Linked DNA regions of Homo sapiens. The protein of the gene in region 1 purifies or fractionates together with the protein of each later gene. This does not show direct contact. Each region holds a gene or a part of one and is shown on either strand. Other genes may lie near its edges.

The links.
Region 2: the proteins of WDR53 (region 1) and NACAD purify together in Homo sapiens (affinity purification with mass spectrometry; one large-scale study listed by BioGRID and IntAct). This does not show direct contact.
Region 3: the proteins of WDR53 (region 1) and BLVRA purify together in Homo sapiens (affinity purification with mass spectrometry; 2 studies listed by BioGRID and IntAct, with this or other methods). This does not show direct contact.

Annotation. Positions count from the first base shown.
Region 1 is NC_000003.12:196,556,083-196,558,676, forward strand, and holds part of WDR53 (WD repeat-containing protein 53), read right to left. Parts: intron 1-2,594.
Region 2 is NC_000007.14:45,079,804-45,082,975, forward strand, and holds the end of NACAD (NAC-alpha domain-containing protein 1), read right to left. Parts: coding exon 2,305-3,172; intron 2,065-2,304; coding exon 1,952-2,064; intron 1,870-1,951; coding exon 1,798-1,869; intron 1,461-1,797; coding exon 1,314-1,460; intron 1,220-1,313; coding exon 1,073-1,219; intron 960-1,072; coding exon 837-959; intron 721-836; coding exon 706-720; 3' UTR 634-705; downstream 1-633. UniProt on the Homo sapiens protein: May prevent inappropriate targeting of non-secretory polypeptides to the endoplasmic reticulum (ER).
Region 3 is NC_000007.14:43,782,673-43,786,327, reverse strand, and holds part of BLVRA (biliverdin reductase A), read right to left. Parts: intron 1-3,655. UniProt on the Homo sapiens protein: Reduces the gamma-methene bridge of the open tetrapyrrole, biliverdin IXalpha, to bilirubin with the concomitant oxidation of a NADH or NADPH cofactor. Does not reduce bilirubin IXbeta.

The DNA.
Region 1 (2,594 bases):
TCACCCAGGCTAGAGTGCAGTGGCATGACCATGGCTCACTGCAGCCTTGACCTCTTGGGTTCAAGTGATCCTTCCACCTCAGCCTCCCAAGTAGATGGGACTACAGGCGCATGCTACCACACCCAGCTAATTTTTGTATTTTTTTGTAGAGATGGGGTTTTTGCTATGTTGCCCAGGCTGGTCTCCAACTGCTGGGCTCAAGCGATCCACTCATCTCCACCTCCCAAAGTGATGGGATTACACGCATCAGCCACAATGCCCCAAAACAGTTTCTATTAAAAAATCTGAACACGGCTGGGCACGGTGGCTCACACCTCTAATCCCAGCACTTTGGGAGGCTGAGGTGGGCGGATCACGATGTCAGGAGATCGAGACCATCCTGGCTAACACAGTGAAACTGCATCTCTACTAAAAATACAAAAAATTAGCTAGGCATGGTGGTGGGCGCCTGTAGTCCCAGCTACTCGGGAGGCTGAGGCAGGAGAATGGCGTGAACCTGGGAGGCAGAGCTTGCAGTGAGCCGAGATCACACCATTGCACTCCAGCCTGGGCAACAGAGCAAGACTCCGTCTTTAAAAAAAAAAAAAAGAAAATACACACACACACACACAGAAAATGGACATTCTAGAATCTGCTAGCTTCACTGTATTGGCAGATAGACCCAGTTCTTTCTCATACAGCCCTTATGAATGGACTGTATTTTCTGTCCTCCAAAGACATTCAAACATGCACTGCACCCAGAGTGTTTCAGCAGCTGAAACACCTTTTGTATTTGACTTAAATCATCTAAATGTGTTAACAGCCATCCCAGATTCTACCAAGTCTAGAATCATTTCCACGTATTGAGGATTCCAGACTGTTCCTGTCTGGACATTCCCTTTATGCTTCTTGACTTTTCTAAAATGCTAAAGACTCCAAGGTGTTTCACACTTAATTTCTCAACCAGCTGTTCAAGCAGTTCTCATCCTAATCAAGAGAGCTAGAGATACTGAAAGAAAAGAATAAAGAGTTTGGGGCTTATGGTTCTGCAAAACATCGAAGGGAGAAAAAGTGGGGAACCAGCAAATGTTCAGAAGTGAATGTAATCATAACAAAGTGACCTTTCAAAACAAATTCCCCTTTTACAAAAACATTTCTTTCCACATAAAAGACTCGTCTTCAAGATAAAGAGCCTCTTCAGGCCAGGTGCAGTGGCTCATGCCTATAATCCCAGCACTTTGGGAGGCCATGGCAGGACTGCTTGAGCCCAGGAGTTCGAGACCAGCCTGGGGAACACAGGGAGCCAGCCCTCCTCTGCAGCAAAAATAAAAAAAATTAGCTGGGTGTGTCGGCTTGTGCCTGTAGTCCCAGCTATGCAGGAGGATGAGGTGGGAGGATCACCTGAGGGAGTGCGAGGCTGCGGTGAGCTCTAATTGTACCACTGCACTCCAGCCTGGATGACAAAGACCCTGTCTCAAAAACAAACAAACAAAAGAGCCTTCTCTACCATCCTGGTCTGTAAGTGTTGGGATTTTGGTTTTAAAAATCCAGAAAGAACAACAAACCTTTCAATCATTTGTTTTCAGATGCAGAAAGGGGCAGGGAAAGAAAATCAACATGTATGCTACAGAAATATGACAGTTTTAATTTTCTAAGTCTTTCAAGAAAAAAACTATAGTTGAATGGTAGGTATACAGGTATTTATTTAATTTTTTTTCTTTTCTTTTTTTTTTTTTGAGACAAGGTCTCACTGTCACCCAGGCTGGAGTGCAGTGGCACAATCTTGGCTCACTGCAACCTCAACCTCTCGGGATCAAGCAATTCTCCCGTCTCAGCCCCCCAAGTAGCTGGGACTACAGGTGCTCACTACACACCTGGCTACTTTTTGTATCTTTTGTAGAGATGGGGTTTCGCTATGTTGCCCAGGCTGGTCACAAACTCCTGAGCTCAAGCGATCCACCTGCCATGGCCTCCCAAAGTTCTGGGATTATAGGCATGAGCCACTGCGCCTGGCCTAATGTTATCCTTTACACCTCATATATATAAATATTACTTTGTACCTATTAAATAAAAAATTAAGCAGTCTCACGTGTCTTAAAGAACCACACTTTGCTTTTAGGGTCCCTGCCTCTTTGAATGCGCTTTGCCTATTTTATTTTTTTGAGACAGGGTCTCACTTTGTCATCCAGGCTGGAGTGCAGTGGCGAGATCATGGCTCACTACAACCTCCACCTCCCTGGGCTCAGGTGATCCTCCCACGTCAACTTCCTAAGTAGCTGGGACCACAGGTGGATGCTAGCACACCTGGCTAATTTTCGTATTTTCGGTAGAGATAGGGTTTTGCCATGTTGTCCAGGCTGGTCTCGAACTCCTGGGCTCAAGTGATCTGCCTGCCTTGGCCTCCCAAAGTGCTGGGATCCCAGGCATGAGCCCTCAGGCACATAAGCTACCACACCTGGCCCTGCCTAATTATTTAAACCTAAGTCAAAAGACATAACTTTATAATTACTGTTACATAAGAAAAAAGATAGGTATGCTGAACATGGCAATCATTCAATTCCTGCCTTGAGATAAAATTTGTTTGCTCAGAGAGAAGTAACTCAAAATAGTCAGAA
Region 2 (3,172 bases), on another chromosome or scaffold:
AGGGGACATCAGAAGGCGGTGAGGGGACACCAGAGAGTATTGAGACACCAGAGGGTGGTGAGGGGACACCAGAGAGTATTGCGGGGACACCAGAGGGCAGTGAGGGGACACCAGAGAGTAATGAGGGGACACCAGAGAGTATTGGGACATCAGAGAGTATTGGGACACCAGAGAGCAGGGGACACCAGAGGGTGGTGAAGGTACACCGGGGAGTATTGAGGGGACACCAGAGGGCGGTGAGGGGACACCAGAGAGTAATGAGGGGACACCAAAGGGCAGTGAGGGGACACTGGTGAGTATTGAGGTGACACCAGAGAGTAATGAGGGGACATCAGAGGGTGGTGAGGGGACACCAGAGGGAAGTGAGGGGACACAGGGTGATGAAGGGACACAAGAGGGTGATGAGGGGACACCAGAGGGAAGTGAGGGGACACAAGAGGGTGATGAAGGGACACCAGAGGGTGATGAGGGGGCACCAGAGGGCAGTGAGGGGACACCACAGAGTAATGAGTGGACACCACAGGGCAGTAAGGGGACACCAGATGGTGGTGAAGGGACACCAGAGGGAAGTGAAGGGATGCCAGATGGTGATGATGGGACTCCAGAGGGCGAGGAGGAGACACCAGAGGGCAATGAAGGGACACCGATTTATTGAGTAGCAGAGCTGAGGGAAGGCGTAGGATGGCTCCAGCTTCCGGTCAGTGGCTACATGGTCAGTTCCTGCAGAAAGAGATGGTCATGTTGGGGGAAGCACCCCGCAGTGGAGCCAACATCAGGACCTCTCGAGGCCCTTGGGGACAGCTCAGGGGTAGGGAAAGGGGCCAGTGCTCACTCACCATGATGGCGTTGACGATGTCACTGTGGTTGTCTCTCAGAGCCCGCACGGCCTTGGCCCTGGACACATTGGCCTGCGCCATCACCAGCTCAATGTCACGCAGTTCCAGCCCCGCCTCGTCCACCTGGAGTTGGGGGAGCAGGGAAGTGGCTGGAGCTGCTTGAGGTCCCTGGGGCAGAGCCCCCATGTAGCGCCTCCCACCACCCCCTGCGAGGCCCTGGAGCCCCTGCACTTCACCTCTTCCTCCTCCTCCTCTTCCTCTTCCTTGCACTCCAGCCTCACCCGGGGCCTGGGTGCTGACTCAGGGACCAAGGCTGAGGGCTCTGAGGGCACCTTAAACTTCTCAGCTGCGGCTTTGTGCACTTGCTGGGACAGGTCCTCAATCTGCAAAATGGAAGACAGCTGTGTCAGTAGAGCCTGTCCCCCCCTTGTCCCCTATCCCTCGGATCCCCCATTCCACCACAGCCGCCACCCAGACCTTGGCCTCGCCAAAGACCACATAAGTGTCTGAGGCTGGGCTCTTGAAGACATCAGGCTTGGCGATGACAAAGAGGATGTTCTTGGACTTCTGGATGGTGATCCTGGTGACTCCCTGAATCTGCCGCAAGCCCAGCTTTGACATTGCCTGGGAGTAGAGGGCAGAGGGGGGCTCAGACCTGGTGTTGACCCACGTCGGGGGAGGAGAGCAGCACAGTGCCCAGGAAGGCAAAGTCTCCACCGCCAACTTCCCCAAGACCTTGGGCTGGTGGTTGGTCCTTCCCCATGAGCCTCAGTCTATAAGGGCCTTCTCATGACATTCCAGCCTCAGCTGTTTAGGGGAAGGTGTGTGGGTTACTGGCATGGACCCAAAGGTCCCCTGATGGATGGGATTTCATTAGCCATGGAGTGTGAGGGTCTTGGTAAGGACGTTCCCCACACAGATGGTCCCAGGCCTGAGGTCCCAGAGGGAGCCACCAGCCCACCTTTCGGGCCTTCTTCTCACTGCGACTCTGCTTGGCTTTGGCGATGGTCTCCTCACTGCCGCCTGCTGGGGCCTGAGAAAAGGTGAGGGCTGAGCATCCATGGGTGGGGTGTGGGGCCCTCCCAGAGGCCCACCCTCTTCCCTGGACTGGGCACCTGGGCTGGACACTGCACGGTCTGAGGAGCCAAGATGTCCTGCTCGTCCAGCTCGGCTGATGACTCCCCGTGGCTATCCGAATGCTGGCCCGAGCCCAGGGCCCGAGGCGAGTCTGGGGAAGGGGAGAGGTGTGAGGATGGCCTTTTGCTTCTAGGTGGCGGGGAAGGGGGTTCAGGACCCTGGCCCTGCTGCCACATCAGGGCCAGAGGAAGCAGTGCCAGCTCTCCATGGTGGCTGTGGGGTCTGGGCCCCCCACCTCGCCACCTCAGAGGCCCTCCAGCTCAGGACAGCTCTAAGGAGGAGTCCAGTTGACCCAAGCCCCAGGGCACTTCACTCCCACCCTCTGCCTTACCTTCCTCCAGGCTGTCCTCATCCTCTTGCTGCTCGGGGGCTGAGAGCCCTTGAGGGCCAGCTGGGCTCTGGGGCCCAGAGGGAGGAGGCACTTGGCAAGGCGGCAAGATCTGCAAGGCCAGGTCTTTGGCATCCATGGAGGCCACCTTGGGGCTGAGGAGTGGGGAGTGAGGCGAGAGGCTGACTCGCGGCCCAGTCCCCAGAGGCTGTGTGGTTCCTGAGACAGCAGCAGCGGCAGGCTGGACTCCTGCCTGGGGCGGTGGGAGGCCCAGAGAGCCTGGGGGCTCCTCGTCTTCCACAGAGTCTTCCTGGGGGTCCTGGCACAGGCAGGGGGCTGGGGGCTCCAGTGGGGGTAGGGCTGCCCCAGCAAGGGTACCAGGAGCAGAAGGGTCAGGGCCCAGGGGCCTGTCCACGGGCGTGCTGGGCTGACCCTTGGCAAGGTTTTCTGGGGGCTGCAGCAAGGGGGTGCCAAGGACACTGGGTACTTCGTGGGGTTGCTCAACACTGCCCAGACCCAGTACAGGCTCCGGCTGCTGGGAGGTTGGTGCAGACGTGGGGGCAGGCGCGTCAGGGCAGCCTCTGTCCAGACTGGACACAGCCCCTACTGAAGACTCTGGGCAGGAGTCCAGACTGGCCTCTGTGGCCACAGCTGAGGGAAGCGTGGGCTCCGGGGTGGACTTGCCACTCAGGCCTCTTTCCTCCCTGGCTGGGCTCAGGAGCCGGGCCTGGCTGACCTCAGGGCAGGCAGCAGGAGGCGCATCGGGGACCTCCCTTGCACCTCCAAGTGCTGACCTGGGTCCATGTTCCTGTGCCAGTGGCTTCAGGCCTCCTTCCTGCTGGTTCTCAACCTCCAGGGTCTCCTTTTGGGG
Region 3 (3,655 bases), on another chromosome or scaffold:
TTTTAATTGACCCCTTTATCTTTCTAAAATGACCATTTTTATTCCTGGTAATATTTTTTGCCCTATAATTTATTTTGTCTGATATTAACAATCCATTCCCAATTTCTGTTGATCAGTGTTGCATAATACATTTTTTCCCCAACCTTTCACATTTAATCTATATGTGTTTTCATAGCTATAGTTAGTTTCTTATAGGCAGCATATAGTTAGGTCTTGCTTTTTTTTACTCAGTCTAACAATCTCTGCCTTTTAGTTGAAACGTTTAGACAATTTACATTGTGATTATTGATATGGTTGGGTTTCCATTCAAATTCTATAGAAATCCTGCTATTTGTTCAATCTGTTCTTTTTCCCCTCTTTTCCTGCCTTATTTTGGATTAATTAGAATATTTATTATGATTCCATTTTATCCCATTTGTTGGCTATTAGCTATAACTCTTTTTCAGAAGTTAAGGATTTTATATTATATATTTTACTTACCACAGTCTACTTTAAAGTAATATTATGCACTATTCCACATATACTATAAAGAACCTGACAACAGTACACTTCCATTTCTTTTCTCCTAGACCTTGTACTGTTGTTATACAATTCAATATTGAAGCGAGAGATTCTCCAGAACTTGCCCAGAAGCCAAGACGTCTGGAAAGGATCTCAGCCTCTGTCAGCCTGCAGCTTGGGAAGAGTGATTCACAGAGCCTGACTGTCCACTGCTGCTAAACCATACACTGGCCTTGGCTCACACATCTGACTGAACTGTCTCCTATGACTAACTGCCTCTCTTTCTTCAGCCTTGCAAGTTTCCTGGGAGTCCTGGGAGTGGACTTCACATATAAAAGGGGACTCTGGGAGACCTAGTTCCTGGCTTCTCTTCTGGAAGTCAGGGAAGAGTATAGGAAGGAGTGGCCACAGTGCCCAACTGACAATTGACAATTTCACCAAGTAAGTCCTTTTTGGGTTACTAGTCTTGTTTTCTTTTCTTTTTTTTTTTTTTTGGTAATTTCTAATTACCAAAAAGCAGTAAGACAGCCTCTGGAGAAATCTGTACAGCCAAAACACATATTAATGATCAAATATTAATATTTGTTTCCCTTTCAATCAAGAAAAGAAGACTAGCAATCCCCTTATTAGGTTAAATATTTATGGCATTCTTAAGGTTACCGTATTACTACATTCCAGATAATAACCAGGATATGCTTCTACCAGCTTAAAAAAAAGGCACAAGGTTAAGAAACAGCTCCATTATCTATAAATAAGCCAAACTGCTTTTTAAGATTTCATTAGTTAATGATACACACAAACTTGCATACAAAACCTGGCTTGCACAGTGTGTCAGGCTAAATTATAAACTGCTTTAGGATTTGGTTTCGATATTACTGCCTTGCAAAACTGACACACAGGGACAAGATATGGGTGAAAGGCCCAGTGCAGTAGCTCATGTCTGTAAACCCAGCACTCTGGGAGGCTGAGGTGGGCGGATCACTTGAGGTCAGGAGTTTCCAGACTTGCCCGACCAACATAGTGAAACCCTGCCTCTACTAAAAATACAAAAAATTAGCCAGGTATGGTGGTGGCGGGTGCCTGTAACCCCAGCTACTTGGTAGCCTGAGGCAGGAGAATCGCTTGAACCGGGGAGGCAGGGGTTGCGGTGAGCCAAGATTGCACCACTGCACTTCAGCCTGGGCGACAGAGCAACACTCCATCTCAAAAAAAAAAAAAAAAAAAAAAAGATATGAGTGAAGACACTGGTATCTTAATAGTCAAGCTGCTCTTAGGGGAAGAACTTTATTTTTGAGAAAAATTACTTGTTAGGCCTTTTAACGTGAGCCTCTTCATTTTACATGAGGGATCTTGAAGGTGCGTTCTGAAGGGAAACTGCAAATCAGAGATGGCTAGACCACTCTGTAGTAGCAGCTAAAACTTTGGGGCTAGGAACCAGTAGGAGGCAGAGGAAAGGGGAAAGTGCACGCAGGTTAGCAAAAGGCTAAAATCTGCAGAGAAGGAAGCCAGTGAGAAACGCCCAGTGGAGGAGGGAGCAATGGACTTCCAGAAACCAGGACATCCACAGTTCCATTTTCAGTTGTCTGCTGTGCTCTGCTATCCTGAACCTTTGGGAAAATGCCACTACAAATAGCCCTATAGAGGTGGTATTTAAGGAACAAAGAACAGGAGCAGTTTTGAGACAGCAGAAAAGGACACATAAGCACAGCAAAGTGACTAAAAAACTCACTTAGGTCCAAATCACAGTCACAGAGTGAGCTTGCGCCCCCACCCTTGGACTCAGAGAAGCTGGTGTTTGGCACTCCAGATGCAAAAATGGAGTTCATAGTTAGGAATGTGCTCTGCCAACTTAGAAAAAAAATTTTTTTTGAGATAAAGAGGGTAGAAGAAAATGTAAAATCACTGTAGAAAAACTTCAAGGTGAGGCATGAGGGCAGGTGCTGAAAAGGTGGAAGGAGAGTCCAGGCAGTTGGACAGAACAAACTAGTCGTTTTCATCCACTATTTGCAAGAATTAAAAAAAAGTTTGATAACACATTGGTTGGCCTGGGGAAACAGGTATGTTCATATGTTGCAGGAGGGAGAGAAGAACCTGCTTTATGGAGAGCAACTTGGAAATATTTATTACAAATTAAAATGCAAATGCCCTTTGTTCTGGTAAATCCAACTGTAAGATAATGTGTCCTATAGAGCTACACAAGTCAAGTGACTTAGGCTTACTGCAGCCTTGCTTATAACAAGCAAAAGATGGAAATAATCTATATGTCATTAATAACAGGCTGGCTATGAAAGTTATGATAGACTCGTGATATAGAGTATTACATGGCAATATAAAAATAAAAGAACGAGGAAGCCCTTTATATATTGAAAGGGACTGGTCTCCAAGATAGATGATCGGGTGAAAGAAGCAAACGACAGCCTAGTGTGCACTGTGTGCTACAGTCTGTGTAGTAACAGGAGGGGTGGTAGCCAAAGGAAAAAGATACTGTCTATGTTTAGAATCTCTTTGAAAGGACAGCCCAGAAACCTGTAACACTGAAACTGGCGACATGCTCTTGCTGGGAGCAAGAAAAACAGAGTGGCTGGGAAACAGGGATAGGAGGGAAGAAGGCTTCTCATAGAAAATATTTTTTTTTCTTTTTTTCCTCTTTAAAGTTTAGAATCACACAAATGTATTCACTATCTAAAATATAAACCACCACTGAAAACAGACATAAATATCAGAGGGCTGCTCTAGGAAGGTGAGAATTCTGCAGTGTATAGCGCCTTGGCTCACTCCCGCTTCCCTTCCTGGAGCTCCCTCTACAGTGCTCAGAGTCCTCTGCTGCCCCTGCCCCTGCCCTGTCCAATGACCCCAAGTGCCCCAGACTCCTCTCACCCCTCCTGGCCCTGCTGCAATTGGTTTTCACTCCCATACCTCCCTGCTTCACCGTGGGTCATCCAAGACCTTCTCATCACATTCAAGGGCTTCTTCTCAGCCACATCCTCCTGGACTTCAGACATGAGTGACCCTTACCTGGACCTTCTTCAAACTCACTCCTTCCTTTCTTCTCTTACCTCATGCTACCGAGGTTTTCTTTTCACATTTCACTTTCTTTCTTCATTTTACCCAAGATGTGCATATTTCCCAAAGCTCAGTCTTCATCCCTCTATTT